Regions from separate parts of the Homo sapiens genome. Here region 2 is linked to region 1. The links come from fine-mapping of genetic effects on plasma protein levels. A gene starts in region 1. The other region holds a variant in brackets. All regions are shown on one strand. Distances are between the middles of the regions.

The links. PIP is the posterior inclusion probability: the model's chance that the variant is causal. The UK Biobank Pharma Proteomics Project read protein levels with antibody pairs (Olink). The fine-mapping took linkage between variants from a reference panel, not from the people measured, so its PIPs are less certain.
Region 2: its variant is fine-mapped to the plasma level of the SMAD3 protein (UK Biobank, PIP above 0.99).

Annotation. Positions count from the first base shown.
Region 1 is chr15:67,055,945-67,065,929 of GRCh38, reverse strand. It overlaps SMAD3 (SMAD family member 3), which reads right to left and starts at 328. Exons shown (of 9, transcript NM_005902.4): 1 at 1-328. SMAD3-DT (SMAD3 divergent transcript) reads left to right here and starts at 1,748. Exons shown (of 6, transcript NR_135686.1): 1 at 1,748-2,814; 2 at 6,718-6,790. RefSeq lists a silencer at 62-551, enhancers at 1,310-2,080, 3,238-3,382 and a cis regulatory region at 3,304-3,317.
Region 2 is chr15:67,035,361-67,043,360 of GRCh38, reverse strand. The region is part of intron 2 of SMAD3-DT (SMAD3 divergent transcript); the gene reads left to right. Among named protein-coding and RNA genes, the nearest start is that of SMAD3-DT, 25 kb to the left of the region's middle. The variant G/A (reference allele first, on the strand shown) is at 3,985.

The DNA of each region.
Region 1 (9,985 bases):
AGCGGCCGGGCGGGCGGACGGCAGCAGTGCAGGGTCGGGAAGGCCCCGAACGCGGGGCGGAGGCGGCGGCCGCGAGACTCCAAGTGGCAGCAGAAGTTTGGGTTTCCGCACGGGGTAGCTGTTTGGGTGCCGCCTCCGGGAAGGAAAGTCCAACCCCCGGCCAAACTTCGCTCGCCTCGCTAGCTTTGATGCGCAGATCCCTCCGCCTCTGCGGCCTCACCGCCCCGCCACCCTCCTCCTCCCGGCTCGCCGCTCGCTCGCTCGCTGGCTGGGCCGGCCCGGGGCGTGCGCCGCGCTCCCGCTCCCGCCCGCTCCCAGTCTGTGTTTCATGCAAATCCGCGTGCAGCCTCCTTTCCAAGTGCTGTCACCGCCCCCTCGCCGCCGGGGCTCCCCGCCTCCTCCCCCGCGCCCCGCCACCTCCTCCCGCGGGCGCCCTGCCCGCCCCCTGCTCCGGGGAGGGCGCCCGGCCGGCCACCACCCCGCGCCCAGCACGCCCACGTGGGCGACCCGGGCGGCGGCAGTCCTGGCTGGAGCGCGCGGGACCCTGCGCGGCCCCGACCTGAAGTCGGGCGGGCGCGGGGAGGAAGTCCTGGGAAACACGGCGAGAGGGGCCTCGGGCGGGAGGGCTGAGCGCGGCCCGTGGCGTCCGCTCTCGGAGTCCACACTCGGGCGGCTCGGTTGGAGTTGCGGGCCGGAGAGGGTTGGACTCGCAGCAAGTAAGCGTCGTCCGGACGCGAGTGCACCCTGGAGAGGACCCGAGCCCGAGAGGGGGCGCGCGGAAGGCCCGGGCCCAGGAAGTTGGGGCCCGCACTTGGCCTCGCGCTTGCTGATCCCCGTCAAGGCCCTTGGCCGGCGCCGGCGCCCCTGGGCTGTTTTTATTCTCTAGTCGGTGAGATCACACCGGCCGAGAGCCTCGGGAACGTGTGCGGAGGAGGAGGGGGTGAGAAGTGGGTCCTCAGAAGTGGAGAGCTGGGGACACCAGTGACAACCTGGACAATGGCTGGAGCCAGGGGTCTCTTGAGCCTTGTGAACCGAGTGCCCGGCAGAAAATGAGCCTCAAGGACATCTGTTGAGTTCTTGAAGGAATGAATGGAGGGGCTTTCGAATTTATCTTTGAAAGAAATTTACATAACAGGGTGTTTGTTGCTGGATCTCCTGATAGAGAAGGATCGGAAATTTGATAATTGCCAATAAATGGAAGAGAGTTTTGTTTCCAAAGCAATGAACTCACAAAAAAGTGGGGCAAGACAGGAGTTTTCGGAGAGTTTGTGTATTCAAAAAAAGCAAAACAACAACAAACCAATTGGCACATTGGGGAGCTCCGCGGCTTTTCTCCCCACCAAAAGAATTCAGGGGCGTCTGCCCGCAGGGCCCTCGGCGGTTTTCAGGAGCTACTCCAGGCCCCTCGGCCTTTCTCTTGCTGCCTCCCGCAGCCGACTAGCCGGTGTCTAAGCCCTTTGTTTGTTTTTAACAGCAGGAATCTCCCACCCCCACCCCTGCTTTGTTAAAAAAAAAAAGTTATCTGGAACCCTCAAGTGGGTGGGGAGTTACAAAGCCCTGTGAGGTGTGGCGGAATCCACAGTCAGCCCAGAAGCGGCAGGGGCCCTTGCCTTGCTCCGGAGAACCGCCTCCCACAAGCCAATCCGCAGCTGCTGCTGCAGAAGTGCGCTGTGCTCCTCACCCTCCTCTCTTCCTAAATACCCGCCTGAAAAGGAGAATACGTGAAAGCCAACTGAGGCTTGACAACCTGGCTTCCGTTCCTTGCTGGTCCTCCTGTTAACGCGCTGCCGCTGTGGTCTTAGGTTTCACTCTCCTCTTCCCGTCCGTCAAGAGAGACAAGGATGACACAATCCACATTTATTGATTGCTTTCTTCATTCCGGGTAGTCCGCCTGCTGCCCTTTGATTCAGTCTTAACAGTGGTTGGTGAGGTAGATGTTCCTGTGCCTCACGTTTACGGAGGCACAGAGAGATTACATTACTTACTCAGGGTTCCAAGTGGCAGAGCTGGAATTTGAACCCAATACTTTGTTGAAGCCTCAGTCTCCGATCTTGAGACTGCACCCAGCTGCCTGGGTCACGGAAGGCAAAGATGACATCATTGATCGAGCTCTTTGCAAAACAGTTCTCTACACGGGCACACTGTTGTAACACTGCAAGGATTATTTGCTCACCTGTAAAATGGGGCTAGAGGTAGCTTCCCTCGCGATCTCCTAGGGTGGCTGTGGGAAGCTCATGTGAAAAGGTTTGCATTGCTAATGCCATGAAAAGTGGTGGAGGGAGGTCAAATAAGTTTAACACACATTGACGGAGCAGCTCTGAGTTGCAGCCCTCCTATTCAGTTCCTGAACTTCCAAAATAAAAGACTAAGGTTTTCAAGGCGTTCACAGCCTAGAGAAGCATCAAAGGGTGGGGATGAGGATGATGTGACTGAGTGGGCAAAGATGGGCAGGGGCCTTGCAGTCATCATCGTCCAGTAAAGTGTTAATCTTAACCTGAACAAGTCCAACCATTGAGAGGTAGCCAAAGAAAGTAAGAGGGGCTCAGGATCCATCAGTGACTGGCCTGGCTTCCAATCCCGGCTCTTTCTCTTCTTCCCCTTGGGCAGCGTCCGTTCTCTCCGCTGTAAGAATGGAGCAAGCGGTTCTCACTGTGCAGAGTGGTGGATCCAGAAAGAGCATTGTAACTGTCCTCCTGTAGTTCAAGTCCTTTATGTTACAGAGAGAGCAATGTCTGCTGAAGGAGAGTGATTTGCACTGTAGAGGAAGAGCGTCAGAGAGATTTGAGGATTACATGTAGTAGAAGGACCTGACAGGTACTTCACCCTGTAAAATCATGGTATGGGAAGGGGCCCTCATTCAGCCCTCTCATTTTCCTGAGGGGAGGAAATAACTAGGCAGCCAGCTAGTTAGTGTGGCAGAACCATGCTTCCCTGCTGGCATCCGTGTGACAAGAACAGCTGTGCATGCAGAAAAATAGTGCTGGACCCACCTACAAGTCTAATAAGTGCCATTTCTGGGCTAGTTCTTTCTCCTCAGGCCTGTTTCTCCAAGAGAAGTCCCTCCACTGGGGGACTAAGTCCAGTTTCAGAAAGCTCTGAGGAGGGCTGAGGAACTGATTCTTCCAGTGCTGAGAAGACCCTGCATGTTCTCTTGATCTTGACTTTGGGCAGTGAATGGGTGGGCTGCTCTGGATGGGTACAACTCTGTTCTGGCACCTGGTCTTTTGGGGCCCAGCCATACCTGCTTTTGCAGAGGTTGTCCTTGGGAGGGAAACATTAGCCCAGTTAATTTTTCACCATGGTAAGTGCAAAGTTCAGGAGAGGTGGGATGGAAGTGGAGACAGCAACTGTTTCCCTGGGAATAGTCCATCCTATGAACAGTTCACCTCGTGAATAGACACATCAGAGGGTTTTCGTGTATTTGGAGTGGCTCCCAGGTAGGCCAGCCACTCCAAATACACGAAAGAAACAAACACCTGACTTCAATTCTGATTATTTTCCCATTAGCTTAAGGGTATTTAATCAACAAGTAGTGAATCTAGAAAAAGCATTAAAATCATCTTCATCTTACACAGACAGAAAGTGATGTCTGTAAGGGAAGGTGATTTGCACTGTGAAGATAAGTAGCCAAATCAGGACTAGAACTTTTATCAGAGTGCCCTCACCTAAGAGAGAGCCTCTGTCTACAGTCAGATCTCTACCTATAGCTCTTTGTAACACCTTACACGTGTGAGCTCTTCTGTGGCACCAGAATGACCTGGGTTAAACTTCTACCTCTTCCACTTCCGGCTGTGTGACTCTGGGCACGTTCCTTAACTCTGTGTGTGTCAGTTTTCTCATCCATAAAATGTGATAATTACAACACCTTCTTAGGATTGCTGTATGGAATCAGATTAAATCATATAGAAAGCTTGGTACAAGCACATAGTAGGTTCTCAATATACATGGATGTGATTCATGCATACTATAAAGTGCTATGCAAAAGTGAGAAGCAATGAATTCCATGTACATAAAACAAATGTATAGATTTTAAACACAGTTCCAACAGAAAATAGTAAGACACAGAGGGAAAGGAATAGCATAATGCTACTATGTAAAACAAATTACATATACACAAAATAATTATATACATTTTGAAAGAAGTTATACAAATAAAAAGATATACATTGAACCACTTCACATCCATTAGGATGGCTATTATCTTTTTTTCTTTGTTTTTGAGATGGAGTTTCGCTCTTGTTGCCCAGGCTGGAGTGCAATGGTGCCATCTTGGCTCACTGCAACCTCCGCCTCCCGGGTTCAAGCAATTCTCCTGCCTCAACCGCCTGAGTAGCTGAGATTACAGGCATGTGCCACCCACGCCTGGCTAATTTTGTATTTTTAGTAGAGACGGGATTTATCCATGTTGGTCAGGCTGGTCTCAAACTCCTGATCTCAGCTGATTCCTCCCACCTTGGCATCCCAAAGTGCTGGGATTACAGGCGTGAGCCACCGCGCCTGGCCAGCTATTCGCTTTTAAAAAACAGAAAATAACATGTTGGAAAGGATGTGAAGAAATTAGAATCCTTGCACATTGCTGGTGAAGATGTGAAGTAGTGCTGCCTCTGAGGAAAATGCTGTGGTGTATGTATGGCAGTTCCTCAAAAAACTGAGCAGAATTACCATATGATCCGGTCATTCTGTTTCTGGGGATATACCCAAAAGAATTGAAAGCAGGGACTACGAGTATTTCCACACCCATGTCCGTAGCAGCCTTATTCACAACAGTCAAAAGGTAGAAGTAACTCAAGTGTCCATCAATGGATGGGTGGAAAAACAAGATGTATTGTAGTCACACAATGGAATTTTTAAATTTTATTTATTTATTTATTTAGAGACAGAGTTTCGCTCTTATTGCCCTGGCTGGAGTGCAGTGGCGCGATCTTGGCTCACTGCAACCTCCACCTCCCAGGTTCAAGTGATTCTCCTGCCTCATCCTCCCTCGTAGCTGGGATTACAGGTATGTGCCACCACACCCAGCTAATTTTGTATTTTTAGTAGAGATGGGGTTTCACCATGTTGGCCAGGGTGGTCTTGAACTCCTGACCTCAGGTGATCTGCCCGCCTCGGCCTCCCAAAGTGCTGGGATTACAGGCATGAGCCGCTGTTCCTGGCCCATACAATGGAATATTATTTAGCTTTAAAAGGAAGGAAATGCTGACACATGATACATTGTGGATGAACCTTGAGAATATTATGCTAAGTGAAATAAACCAGCCACAGAGGAACAAAAATTGTGTGATTCCACTTACAGAAGTACCTAGCATAGTTAAATTCTTAGAGACAGGAAGGAGATAGTGGTTGCCAAGGGCCAAAGGGAGAGGGAATGGAGAATTATTGTTTACTGGATATGGAGTTTCAGGTGAAGAAGATGAAAAAACTCTGGAGATGGATGGTGGAGTTGGTTGTACAACAATGTGAATGCAGTCAGTGCCATGGAACTGTACACTTAAAATGGTTAAAATAGTCAATTTTGTTATGTACATTTTACCATAATAAAAGAGTAGGAATAGGCCAGGTGCGGTAGCTCATGCCTGTAATCCTAGCACTTTGGGAGGCCAAGGCGGGTAGATCACCTGAGGTCAGAAGTTCGAAACCATCCTGGCCAACATGGTGAAACCTTGTCTCTACTAAAAATACAAAAATTAGCCAGGCACGATGGCAGGAGCCTGTAATACCAGCTACTTGGGAGTCTGAGGCAGGAGGGTCACTTGAACCCAGGAGGCAGAGGTTGCAGTGAGCAGAGATCACGCCGCTGCACTCCAACCTGGTGACAGAGCGAGACTCCATCTCTAAATAAATAAATAAAGTGGGAATAAAATGGTAAATATTGAACAGAGTAGAATAGATGTTTGAGTGTGGGTGTATGGGAGAATAGAGGATAAGGCTAAAGAGGGAAAATAAATAAGTGCATTCAGGTGTGTATGACTGATGTGTGTAACTGAGGAGTGTGGCTAACTTTACCCTACTGCTCTAACGTAGTGTTCAACATACATTAGTCAATAGACCAATTGCTCTCTAGTTTGTTCGAAAGATAGAACCTTTGGCTTCCAGCACTGTTCAGTTCGGTGGTCATGATATCTTACATGTGGAGAACTTAGTCAAAATTATTAAAAATTCCTGTCTCACAGCAACCCCTAAAACATGCAGGCTTAGGCGTTGCCCTATCTGACAGCTTAGGGAACAGAGGGCAGGAGATTAACACCATTTGTGGGGCTGCCCTATGCCAGGACTGGGCTTGGGACTTCAAGGATGTGGTCATGTTTAAAGTTCTCAGTGTCTACAAGATGATTGTTGCATTGCTGCTTTATGGAGGAGGGACCAGAGAGGCAGGCAGTTCAGCTGTTGTTGGCCCAAGCTTGACTGGCCGTGGAATACCAGCCCCTTACTGCTAGCCCAGCGTGGGTCCCTATGTCCCCAAAGCCCACAGCAGAATTTCTGGCGTGGATTACAGAGTGTCCTTGGGAGAATGACTATGACAGAAGGAGCTGGATACAGGTACTGTCCAAGGAAAGTATTGAGAGAGAGCAGGTCTGACTCAGAAAGATTTGGGGCAGGGGGTTGGACTTGGGGCTGTGTGCAGACCGAGGCATGGGGCCAAGGCTGAGCTGGGAGCATGGGACAGGGCTGTGGGCGGGCACTTGGAGCCCAGGGCAGGGTTCACAGAGCTATTTTCAGTTCTCTTGCAGGATCTCCTTCCCAGCCTTCAGAAATTGCCGGTCTGGGAGTTGGGGGCAAGGAGAAGATCCTGGTAAGTGTGAGGTTGTGTGTGTATGAGTTTATTTTTTACCATTTATGTGTGTCCTGGTGTGTTGCACTCTCTATGCATACAGGGGTGTTGTGGAGATTCACATGTGTGTGCATGTAAGATGTCTCTGCCTGTGCCTCTGAGGTCTTGTTCACATCTCATTCTTTCAAAGTCCAGCCCCAGTTATTTAAGTGAAACGGGTACATGTTGTGTGAGTTTCCTCTCTGAATTCATATGTTTTTGTCCTTGCGTACATCTTGTATGTACGTATATATGTTTATAGAGGTCACTGTGTTTTCCGTTTCCTATTTTCCAAGATAATAAAGTCACAAATCAGTCTTGGCTCAGGCCCATGGTCTATGGTTCTGTTAGCAATGTGGACATAAAAAAGAGTAGTTGGAAAATTGTTGGTCCATTATAGTAGCATTTACTTTTAAAAATACCTGCATATGAACAGCCACCAGAGAGGATGCATTGAAATGAAAATAGAGTTCTACAAATGCAGTGAGAGTGTATGACCTTAAATTATTTTTATTTTTTTACATTAAAAATAATAGAGGCATGTTATTTTTACATTAAAAACAACAGAGGTATAGAGGTCCGGCACAGTGGCTTACTCCTGTAATTCCAGCACTTTGGGAGGCCAAGGCAGGTGGATCACCTGATGTCAGGAGTTTGAGACCAGCCTGACCAACATGGTGAAACCCCTGCCTCTACTAAAAATACAAAATTAGCCGGGCGTGGTGGTGCATGTCTGTAATACCAGCTACTCAGGAGGCTGAGGCAGGAGAATTGCTTGAACCCGGGAGGCAGAGGTTTCAGTAAGCTGAGATAGCACCACTGTACTCCAGCCTGGGCAACAAGAACGAAACTCCATCTCAAAAAATTAAATAAATAAAATCAACAGAGGCATATACCCAAAGGAACTAAAAGCAGGGGCTTAAACAGATATTTGTATGCCCCTGTTCATAGCAGCATTATTCATAGTAGCCACAAGGCGGGAGCAACCCAAGCATCTGTCAACAGATGGAGAAGCAAAATATGATATAGACATACAATAGAGGATTGTTCAGCCTTCAAAAGGGTTGAAATTCTTTTTTTTTTTTTTGTGACGGAGTCTTGCTGTGTCGCCCAGGCTGGAGTGCAGTGGCGCAATCTCGGCTCACTGCAAGCGCCGCCTCCCGGGTTCACGCCATTCTCCTGCCTCAGCCCACGGAGTAGCTGGGACTACAGGCACCCGCCACTGCGCCCGGCTAATTTTTTATATTTTTAGTAGAGACGGGGTTTCACCGTGGTCTCGATCTCCTGACCTCGTGATCCACCCGCCTCGGCCTCCCAAAATGCTGGGATTACAGGCGTGAGCCACCGCGCCCAGCAAAAGGGTTGAAATTCTTACACATACTACAGTGTGAATGAACTTTGAGACCATGTTAAGTGAAATAAATCAGTCACAAAAGAGCAAATGTTCTATGAATCCACTTATATGAGATATGTAGAGTAGTCAAATACAGGCTAGGCGTGCTGGCTCATGCCTATAATCCCTTTGGATTATAGCACTTTGGGAGGCCAAGGCGGGAGGATCACCTGAGGTTGGGAGTTTGAGATCAACCTGGCCAACATGGAGAAACCCCGTCTCTATTAACAATACAAAAATTAGCCGGGTGTAGTAGTGCATGCCTGTAATCCCAGCTACTACTCGGAAGGATAGCTTGAACCCTGGAGGTGGAGGCTGCAGTGAGTGGAGATCACACCACTGCACTCCAGCCTGGGAGACAGAGCGAGACTCCATCTCAAAATAAATGAATAAATAAACAAATTCATAGAGACAAAAAGTAGAATGGTGGTTTCCAGAGGGTTGGGTAAGAGGCGATGAGAGTTAGTATTTAATGCGTACAGAACTTCTGCAAGACGAAAAGAGTTCCAGAGGTGGATGGTGTGATGAGAGCAGAACAAGGATGAATATACATAATGTCACTGTACTGTATACTTCATAATGGTTAACATGGTAAATTTTATTATGTATATTGGGCCACACTTTAAAAAAAATAAATTTTAAAAGGAAATAGGGTATACTGTATAAAAGTTATAACTCAGTGAAAAAACAGATTTTAAAAAGAGAAGGAGGTCAGGCACGATGGCTCACACCTGTAATCCCAGCACTTTGGGAGGCTGAGGCAGGCAGATCACAAAGTCAGGAGATCGAGACCACCCTGGCCAACATGGTGAAACCCTGTCTCTACTAAAAATACAAAAATTTGCTGGGTGTGGTGGTGGGTGCCTGTAGTCCCAGCTACTTGGGAGGCTGAGGCAGGAGAATCCCTTGAACCCGGGAGGCAGAGGTTGCATTGAGATGAGATCACACCACTGCACTCCAGCCTGGTGACAGAGCAAGACTTCATCTGAAAAAAAAAAAAAAAGAGAGAGAAGAAAAAAATGTGTAGGGCAAAAGCAGTGTCAGGTGTCTCCAGTGTGTGAAACATGGGTTGTAGAGTGGCACAGAAGGAGACAATGGTGATTTGCACTTTCGGGTCAGGCGTGAACGTGTTACTGGCCTTCAGAGAGGGCCTGTTAGTGCTTCAGTGTAGTCAGGCCCTGGGTGTGTGACAGGAGAAAGAGTGGAATCCTGACCTCGTAAAATAACATCGCATCTGGAATAGTCTGCACCTTACTTACAGCCCAGCATCTGCAGCCCATGAGAACTTCCTGCCACTGATTGACATGGTTGAAGTGCATGGTATGTAAATTATATCTCACTAATGACATTTTAAAAAATAATGAAGGTTAGCACCTATTGAAGTCTTACAAGTGCTAGGCCCTATTTTCAACACTTCTATGGATTAGATTCACTTGTTTGGTTTTCACGACTGCTTGTGGTTCTTGTTATTATCATGCCCTTTTCAGAAGAGGGCACTGAGCATGGTAAGGTCAGACCAGGGAGTGGCTGTGCCCAGTCAATCCAGGCAGCCTGCTACACCTAAGTCCTTGCTCTTAACCACAATGAAGACAAAAAACAGCCACTAACTAGAAATAATCATATTGCACTCACCTGCATTTTCTTTTAACATATTGTGAATATCTTTCTATGTCAATACATACGTATTTCCTACATTGTTTTGAAAGTCTGTAGAGCTTTTTGTCACATGGATCTCCCATAATTTTTTTTTTTTTTTTGAGACAGAGTCTCACTCCTGTTGCCCA
Region 2 (8,000 bases), 22 kb after region 1:
GCATGGTGGTATGCACCTGTAGTCCCAGCTACTTGAGAGGCTGAAGTGGGAGGATCACTTGAGCCTGGGAGATAGAGGCTGCAATGAGCTGAGGTCACACCACTGCACTCCAGCCTGAGTGACAGAGCGAGACCCTGACTTAAAGGAAAAAGAGAGAGAGAGAGAGAGAGAGAGACAAGGGCTGGGGCCAGCCTGCCTGAATTCTAACACTCATGAGCTGTATTCCCATAGTAGAGTTTTTCAACTCTCTGAACCTCAGCTTCCTTATCTGTAAGGAAGGATAATAATAACTCCTTCTCGATCACACTGTGAAGATAGCATGTGATCGTGCACGGCAGGAAGCATTTGATTCAGACCTTGACATACTGTGATTATTACTTGTGGTTACTGTTGTCATAACCTAGTGAGGGGATGGGACAGAGCCTATGGTTATCCCACATTGATACATGATTAAGACTCTGAAGTTCAAAGGTTAGTTGATATTCGAAGTCACACATTATCACTGAGATGGTTCTAATAACCCATGGCCTGGCTCTCTGCAGGGGGCCAGCTCCCTCAAGGGGTCCCTGCCAACTTCTAGAGGTCTCCCATGGGTTTCTGAGCATTTGCCAGCACACTCTCCCCTCATAGCAGGCAAAGCGGGAGGCACTGAGCTGCGTGCAAAGATGAGGAAGGATGTGTAGGTGGCTGGTGCTGCAGGCTACCCGAGAACACTGGTTCTATGTACTTTGTACTCTGGGGAGCAGTTTGCAGTGGTGGGAAGAGGTGGCTGCTTGGAATAGACAAAAAGTACAGAAGCCTCTGTAGGCAAAAAGCTCTCCCCCACATGGTCTTCCATTCCTCTGTTCCAAACCATATAAGACTTTCTCTGCCCTCAGAATAAAATCCTTAACATAGTTTCATGTCATGTTGAATTTTTTCCTAGCTCCTTCCCAGTTTGATCCCTTGAAGCATGACATTGAGCTTCTCTATCCTTCTTCCCCCATCAACCCCTACACACACACACACACACACACACACACACACACACGCACACACAAGCACTCATACCTTCACACATTCACACTGCAAGCTCAGTTCTCCCCAGGCTAGGTTGAGGACCCCCCTCCCCCTCCTCAGGTAGAAATCAGCCACATCTGGCCATCTGGACAATTGCCGGCCTGGACTCGAAGAGCAAGAGCAAATCTGCAAGCCAGCAGAGGAACCCAGCTCATTCTGAGTAAAAATAACCTGTCAAATCAATTACAGCGGCAGAACCAATTAGGGTGACCGCAGGGGAATAAATATGCAGTGTTTAACTTAATCATCTTTCTGTTCGAACAGCACTCCGGCAGGGCTGCATGACTAAGGCAAATGACTATTACATAACTGGTATTTTTATTCCTTGCCCCTTCTCTTTAGAAAGAGAAGCCAGTAAATTTCATTTTCCTTTAAAGTGGAAAAAAAGACAAAGGAAAAGAAAGAAGATTGTTTCTGAACTTGCACAAATGATCAAAAAAAAAAAAAAAAAGGACAGCCTGGGGCCCTCTGTTAGCAACAAATTAATGTAGAACTACTCACTAGCTATGTGACCTTAGGTGAGTCATTTTCTTCTGTGATTCCGCATCTATGAAGGGAGGCACTTAGAGCTGATGATCCCCAAGAGCCATTCTTGCAAATCCTGACTTTCTATTACCTAGGACAACTTTGACTCTGAAATTCTTTATGGCCATGGTGGGATCTTACTTACCTTTGAGTTACCCCATTGCTCCTTGTACAGTGTCTGTATACTCAGGTGCTCAATAAATACTTGCCAAACTGTTCTTTATTTCAACATTTCCTGTCTCTAGGATACTTGCTAGGGACTGGGAGATAGGCACCCAAGTAGTATAAAGAAGTTGTCTCCCATTTGAGGGAGGCCAGGCATGCCTCTGAGAAATGACAGAGTCTAGTGTGCATAGGCTGGATGCGTGCTGGAGGCAATAGATACTCAGAGAAGAAGGATCTTTCTTTCTTCCCTTCTTTCCTTCTTCCCTTCTTTCCCTTCCTTCTCTACCTTCCCTTCCCTTTTCCTTCCTTCTCTACCTTCCCTTCCCTTTTCCTTCCTTCTCTACCTTCCCTTCCCTTTTCCTTCCTTCTCTACCTTCCCTTCCCTTTTCCTTCCTTCTCTACCTTCCCTTCCCTTTTCCTTCCTTCCTTCTCTACCTTCTCTCCCCTTTTCCTTCCTTCCTTCCTTCTCCCTTTTTCTTTCTTTCTTTCTTTCTTTTTGTTTTGTTTTTGTTTTTTTCTGAGACAGGATCTCTCTCTGTTGCCCATGCTGGAGTGCAGTGGCATGATCTTGGCTTACCGCAGCCGTGGTCTCAAGTGATCCTCTCTGTTCAGCCTTCTGAGTAGCTGGGACTACTGGTTGGAATTAAAGATAGTCAGATGTTGAGCATAAACGCTTTCTTAATTGGTGGCTGCTTTTAGGCAGATTTTTAAATTTTTTGTAGAGACATGGGGGTCTCACTATGTTGCCCAGGCTGGTTTTGAACTCCTGGACTCAAGTGATCCTCCCATCTCAGCCTCCCAAAATGCTGGGATTACAGGAGTGAGCCGCTGTGCTTGGCCAAGAGGGATATTTCTAACCCGAGAACGGTCATGAAGCACTTCCTGGAGAAGGTGAAATAGCACTGGTCCTTGAAAGACATTTAGAATTCTGACCAGTCAATAAGATGAAAGATACTGTAGGGGTATCTGTAGGAATGGCCTACGTAGAAGTGAGGAGAGAGAAAACCTAACAGTGGTGGGTGGTTTGTGTTGGGAAGCAAAAAACGAAAAAAAAAAAAAAAAGAAAAGATATCTTGGAATCAGACTGAGAAATGCTTTGGAAGCCAGGCTGGGGAGGGTGGGGCATATCCTGGAAGCAATGGGAAAGGAAGGTGGGATGGAGTCTCTATAGTTTCATCATCTTCTCTGGCCAGTGGGTAAATTCACCATTCTAAATAGTTAGAGATGAACTTTATTTCTGTTCTGTTCTCCCTGGGAACAGCCTAGAGGTCTAGAACCATGGGGAAGGAAGTAGGGGACTGTCATTGATTGCACAGAATACAGTTCTTTTGCCCTGCCTATCATACCAAAGCCCTAGGTTTGCTTACTTTGCCCAAGTGCAAATTCACAGCTTTTCAGGGCTGTAAAGGTCAATTATTAGAGCGGATGCTGTCGGTGCCCTGACCCATCTCCTCAGCACTCACCTCCACACTGAATTCAGGTCGCTCACATCTAATACCCATGAGCACTGTGGCCAGCGTGGGGCAAAGCCCAAAGTGCCCAAGAATTGATATCCCTGGCGAACAGCCCTCTATGAATGAGGGACGAGCATTTGGTGGATAAATCCCCAGTTTCCTTACCCCTTGGGCAGATGAACTCTGAGGTGTGTTTTCCAACTCTGTCTCCCAGAGTGTTTCCAACACCAGTTGCCTGTGGTGACAACCTGCTCAGCAGCATGCCTCACACTGGCTTCCTTCCGTTCTCTGTCTCACTTCCACACCCTTCACCTGAGTTTCTAGGGATCACCTTCTAAATGACCTATTACTCACACTTGAATCCTTGACTCAAGCTTCTGGGGAAACTGAAACCAAAATAATTCATAAATGTCCCTCATTATATGGCTGGGGAAACTGAGGCCCAGAGAGGAGAAGATGATTTGCTTAAGGTCACCAAACAGCTGGCTTAGGCGAGAGCCTGGGCCTCCAGGCCCCCAGCCCAGGGCCCTCCCGCTAGACCAGACAAGTCTTAGATTAGTGCTCCCTCCCCTCTGCTCCCCCGCTGAGGCGCCACAAAGTCACAAGTCAGCAGCAGAAACTATTCTTCCTCCACTCCTATTTGAGCAGAAAGCAAGGGGCCTCAGCAAGGGGGAAGGGGCGAGGCCTGAGGCTCCCAGATGTGGCCCTCATTCTCCTGGAAAGTGGGCTTTTGTCTCTGCGGTAACCAGGGCAGCCGCCCCATTTATCTGGTTTTAGCAAA[G/A]CAGCCGCATCCTTTGGTTTCAACTGCTGGGGTTGAAATGGTATGTTTGCAAAATGGAGTTATTAGCCCTTAAAAAGGAGGAGGAGGGTTTTTTTCTCAGGAAAAGGAAGATGAAGCTTGGGGTCTTTCCATATCAATGTCGAAGAAGTGCAATATACACAGAAATGACTTTAGGGGACCAGAGAAATCCTAAGTAAAGATGGAAACCAGCAAGTGGAGTTTAGATAGATAGAGTGATATCCTTTTTAAAGCAAGCAAATACATCTTATAACAAGGTAGCTGTTTGCTGTCAGTGAAAGGAATCCAAGGGGAATATTGCTGAGAAACAAAGGCATTTTCTGTCTCTTTAAATAACTCAAGGCAGCCTGACATCTTAGTTAACAGAGGAAACAAAGATGTTGTATGCTCAGGGAAAGGAAACTATTTTTCTCTTGAAAAGAAAGCAGATGTTATCATCTAGCTCTAGAAAAGTTTGAGGTACCCAAGCACAAAGTGACACTTTGCCAGGTTTAATAAACATTGCTTTGATGTGCCAACAACCCCTAACTAAACTGGTCACTTAAATGAACTAACCTTTAGGCTACTAATGGATTATTATCATAGTTCACCTCTCTGTGTATGAAGTTCCCTTGAGCAAATCCCTAGACTGAAGATCCCTTGAGCAAATCATTCTATCCTTGCCTTGCCATGAAGTATTTGTGAAGGGCTAATTGCAAATTCATTTGTTCCGTCATTCAGAAGTTCGGTATTTTTACTGTGTGGTTGGACAAATACAATACATGCAGATAATGGACTAAATTGGTCACACTTGTAATTGTGTAAGGTCAAAAACAGGACCCAGAGCATCCATGCTGAAGGCAGGGCAGGGAAGCAAAGCTGAAAAAAGCTTGGGAAGTCAGGCTGGGGAGGGTGGGGCATATCCTGGAAGCAATGGGAGAGGAAGGTCAGAAAGTCTGTAGTCTATCCTGGGGAAGGAAAGGGAAGATTTCATTGAGATTATCTTTTTTCTCTGGCCCTCACATTTTTTGGGAAGAATCCGAATGAATAGGTAAGAAAGACTTAGTAGCTTGGCTGGGGCAGATGGCATATGATGTAGAATTGTTAGATTAAGTTGGAAAGATAATGTGAGTTTCAGTTTGGAGGACTTGAGATGCATGCAAAGAAGCCTAGGCTTTATCCTAAAGGTAGCAGGGAGCCATTGGATGTTCAGGATCATATTGGGGGAGGAAAATTGAGCTCAAGATGGTTGCCTACTTACCCTCAAAGGGCAGTCTTTAGCATCCCTGATATGATATTGATATGATGAATCACTTATGAAGTCCATTCACCCAACTGGCTAATTTTCTGTCTTTGGGGTTGGGGGAGGAAGAAAGGAGGTAAGTTATTGGATTTCAAAGTACAAAGTGGAAGAGGAATTTCTCAATTGGATCAATCAGTAGGGACACACTCTCCCTGCTGGGAGCCAAGAGCCAGCTGTTGCCCAGGTCAGGTGCAAACTATGGAATTATAGCAGCACCCATTTGAGCAGCTGGTTAGAATGCTTCTGGGTTTTCCCTTAGACACTTAACCTTTTTATAGCTCAGCCACAAAACTTTTGCTTCAGGCCAGACCTCAGCCTGTTACTTGCTTAATTAATTGTTTTTCTTTCCAGCATCCCTCCAAAATCTATCAGAGAATAATACTTCAGCTAGGTCTCTTGCATTTCTGCAAGAGGTCTCTTCATTTCTGAATTATTTGGGTTTTTCCCCTTCCACTCCTCTGAGACCAGACTTTGGAAATGTATGTTTCAATCAATACTCTATTAAGCAGAAAGCTCAGGGAGGAGAGGATGCAAGGTAATAACATTTTCTGTCTAATGGAGGATTCTTTTAATAAAACTCAATTTGTTTCAGTCCTCTTTGTAGCTGCTGGTTATTAAAAAAATGCCCGAGTCCACTTTTTCTGCCCTCTGGTTGTGATTAAGTGAATCCTTGCTGAAGAGGGTTCTTGTAGGCCACAGAGGAGCGGTGTGGTCATCAATAACCACAGGCCAGGGTTGGAAAATAGGATGGAAAAGGAGAAGGGTAGGGGTTAGCCACCACTGACTGTGTGGCTGCAGGGCACCATGGGAACCCCGGCTGGCTGCCACCACACCCTTCACTCACCCTTCACCAGCCCCCTCCCCTCACCTAACCCAGAACAGGAAGGCAGGGCCAAAGTCAAGACACAATCTTTTTTCTTCCCTAATCTTCACCCAACTTTCATGAAGAAAAGGCAGACATTGGGGAAAATGCTGTTAAGGGGACTTGTTTTTTGTTTTGTTTTGTTTTGTTTTTGAGACAGTGTCTTGCTCTGTTGCCCAGGCTGGAGTGCTATGGCGTGATCTTAGCTCATTGCAACCTCAACCTCCTGGGCTCAAGCGATCCTCCCACCTCAGCCCTGCCAAGTAGCTGGGACCACAGGCATGCACCACCATGCCCAGCTTAAATTTGTTTATTTTTCTTTTAGAGATGGGGGCTTCCTATGTTGCCCAGACTGCTCTTGACTCCTAGGCTCAAGTGATCCTCCCGACTCGGTCTCTCCAAGTGTTGGGATTACAGACATGAGCCACCATGCCCAGTCGAGGGGATTTTTTTTTTTTTTTTTGAAATAGTCTTGCTCTGTTGCCCAGGCTGGAATGTAGTGGCACAGTCTCGGCTCACTGCAACCTCCACCTCCCAGGTTCAAGCACTTCTCCTGCCTCAGCCACCTGAGTAGCTGGGATTACAGGCGCGCCCGGCTAATTTTTATATTTTTAGTAGAGACAAGGTTTCACCATATTGGCCAGGCTGGTCTCGAATTCCTGGCCTCAAGCAATCCACTTGTCTTGGCCTCCCAAAGTGCTGGGATTACAGGCATGAGCCACTGCGCCCAGCCTAAGCAACTTCCCAGGGAAATCCCGGGAGTCTGGACGTCCTGGGTGAGTGCATTAGCAAGAACATCGGCCTGTCAGCCAAGAGAGTTCATTTCTTGTCCTGACTCTGCCATGCATTACCTGTGTGGCCTTGGACAAGTAGCCTCTCCTCTCTGGGCCACATTAATGTGTCTATAAAGGGAGGGGGCTGGGCTGGGGTCTGCAAGTTCCCTTCCATGGAGCTGTAAAATTGGGATAATAACAACGCCTTCTCTGCTCACCTCAAAGAGGTGTGGGAAGATAAAAATTAAAAATGATTGGAAATACTTGGTAAGTTGTAAAGCCCTATGTAATCGGGAAGAGTAAGTCTCTATGGGAGGCTTCCTTCAGCAGTCAGGAACTTCTTAATGCAAACCAGGTGTTGGTGCAATCAGACTTGAGGTCTCCCAGCCTGGGGAGACTGTGGCTGGGGGAGGGCGAGGAGAAGGGAAGTGAGGTGGGCAGCCTGGCTTCCCAGAGTCTCCCTTCATACATGGCTCCTCATTCTTCCTTGGTGCCCGTACACAGCAGGATGACACCCCCACCCACACCCCTACTCGCTGCCCAGGGTGACACCTCCACTCCCACCCTGTGCCCAGGATGAAACCCCCACTCCAAGCCCAGGATGACACCTCCACCCCATCCCATGCCCAAGATGGCACCCCCACCCCCACCCTGTGCCCAGGATAACAGCCCCACCCCCACCCCGTGGCCAGGATGACACCTCCACCCCATTCGGTGCCCAGGATGACAGCCCCACCCCCACCCCATGCCCAGGATGACACCCCACCACCACCCTGTGCCCAGGATGATACCCCTCACCACCTCACACCCAGGAGGACACCCCACCCCCACCCCGTGCCATGATGACACCCCCATCCCCACCCCATGCCCATGATGACACTCACCCCCACCCCATGCCCAGGATGACACCCCCACCCACACCCCATGCCTAGGATGACACCCCACCACAATCCGGTGCTTGGGATGATACCCCTCCCCACCCCACACCCAGGAGGACACCCCACCCCCACCCCATGCCCAGGATGACACCCCCACCCACACCCCATGCCTAGGATGACAGCCCCAACCCTGTGCCCTGCTC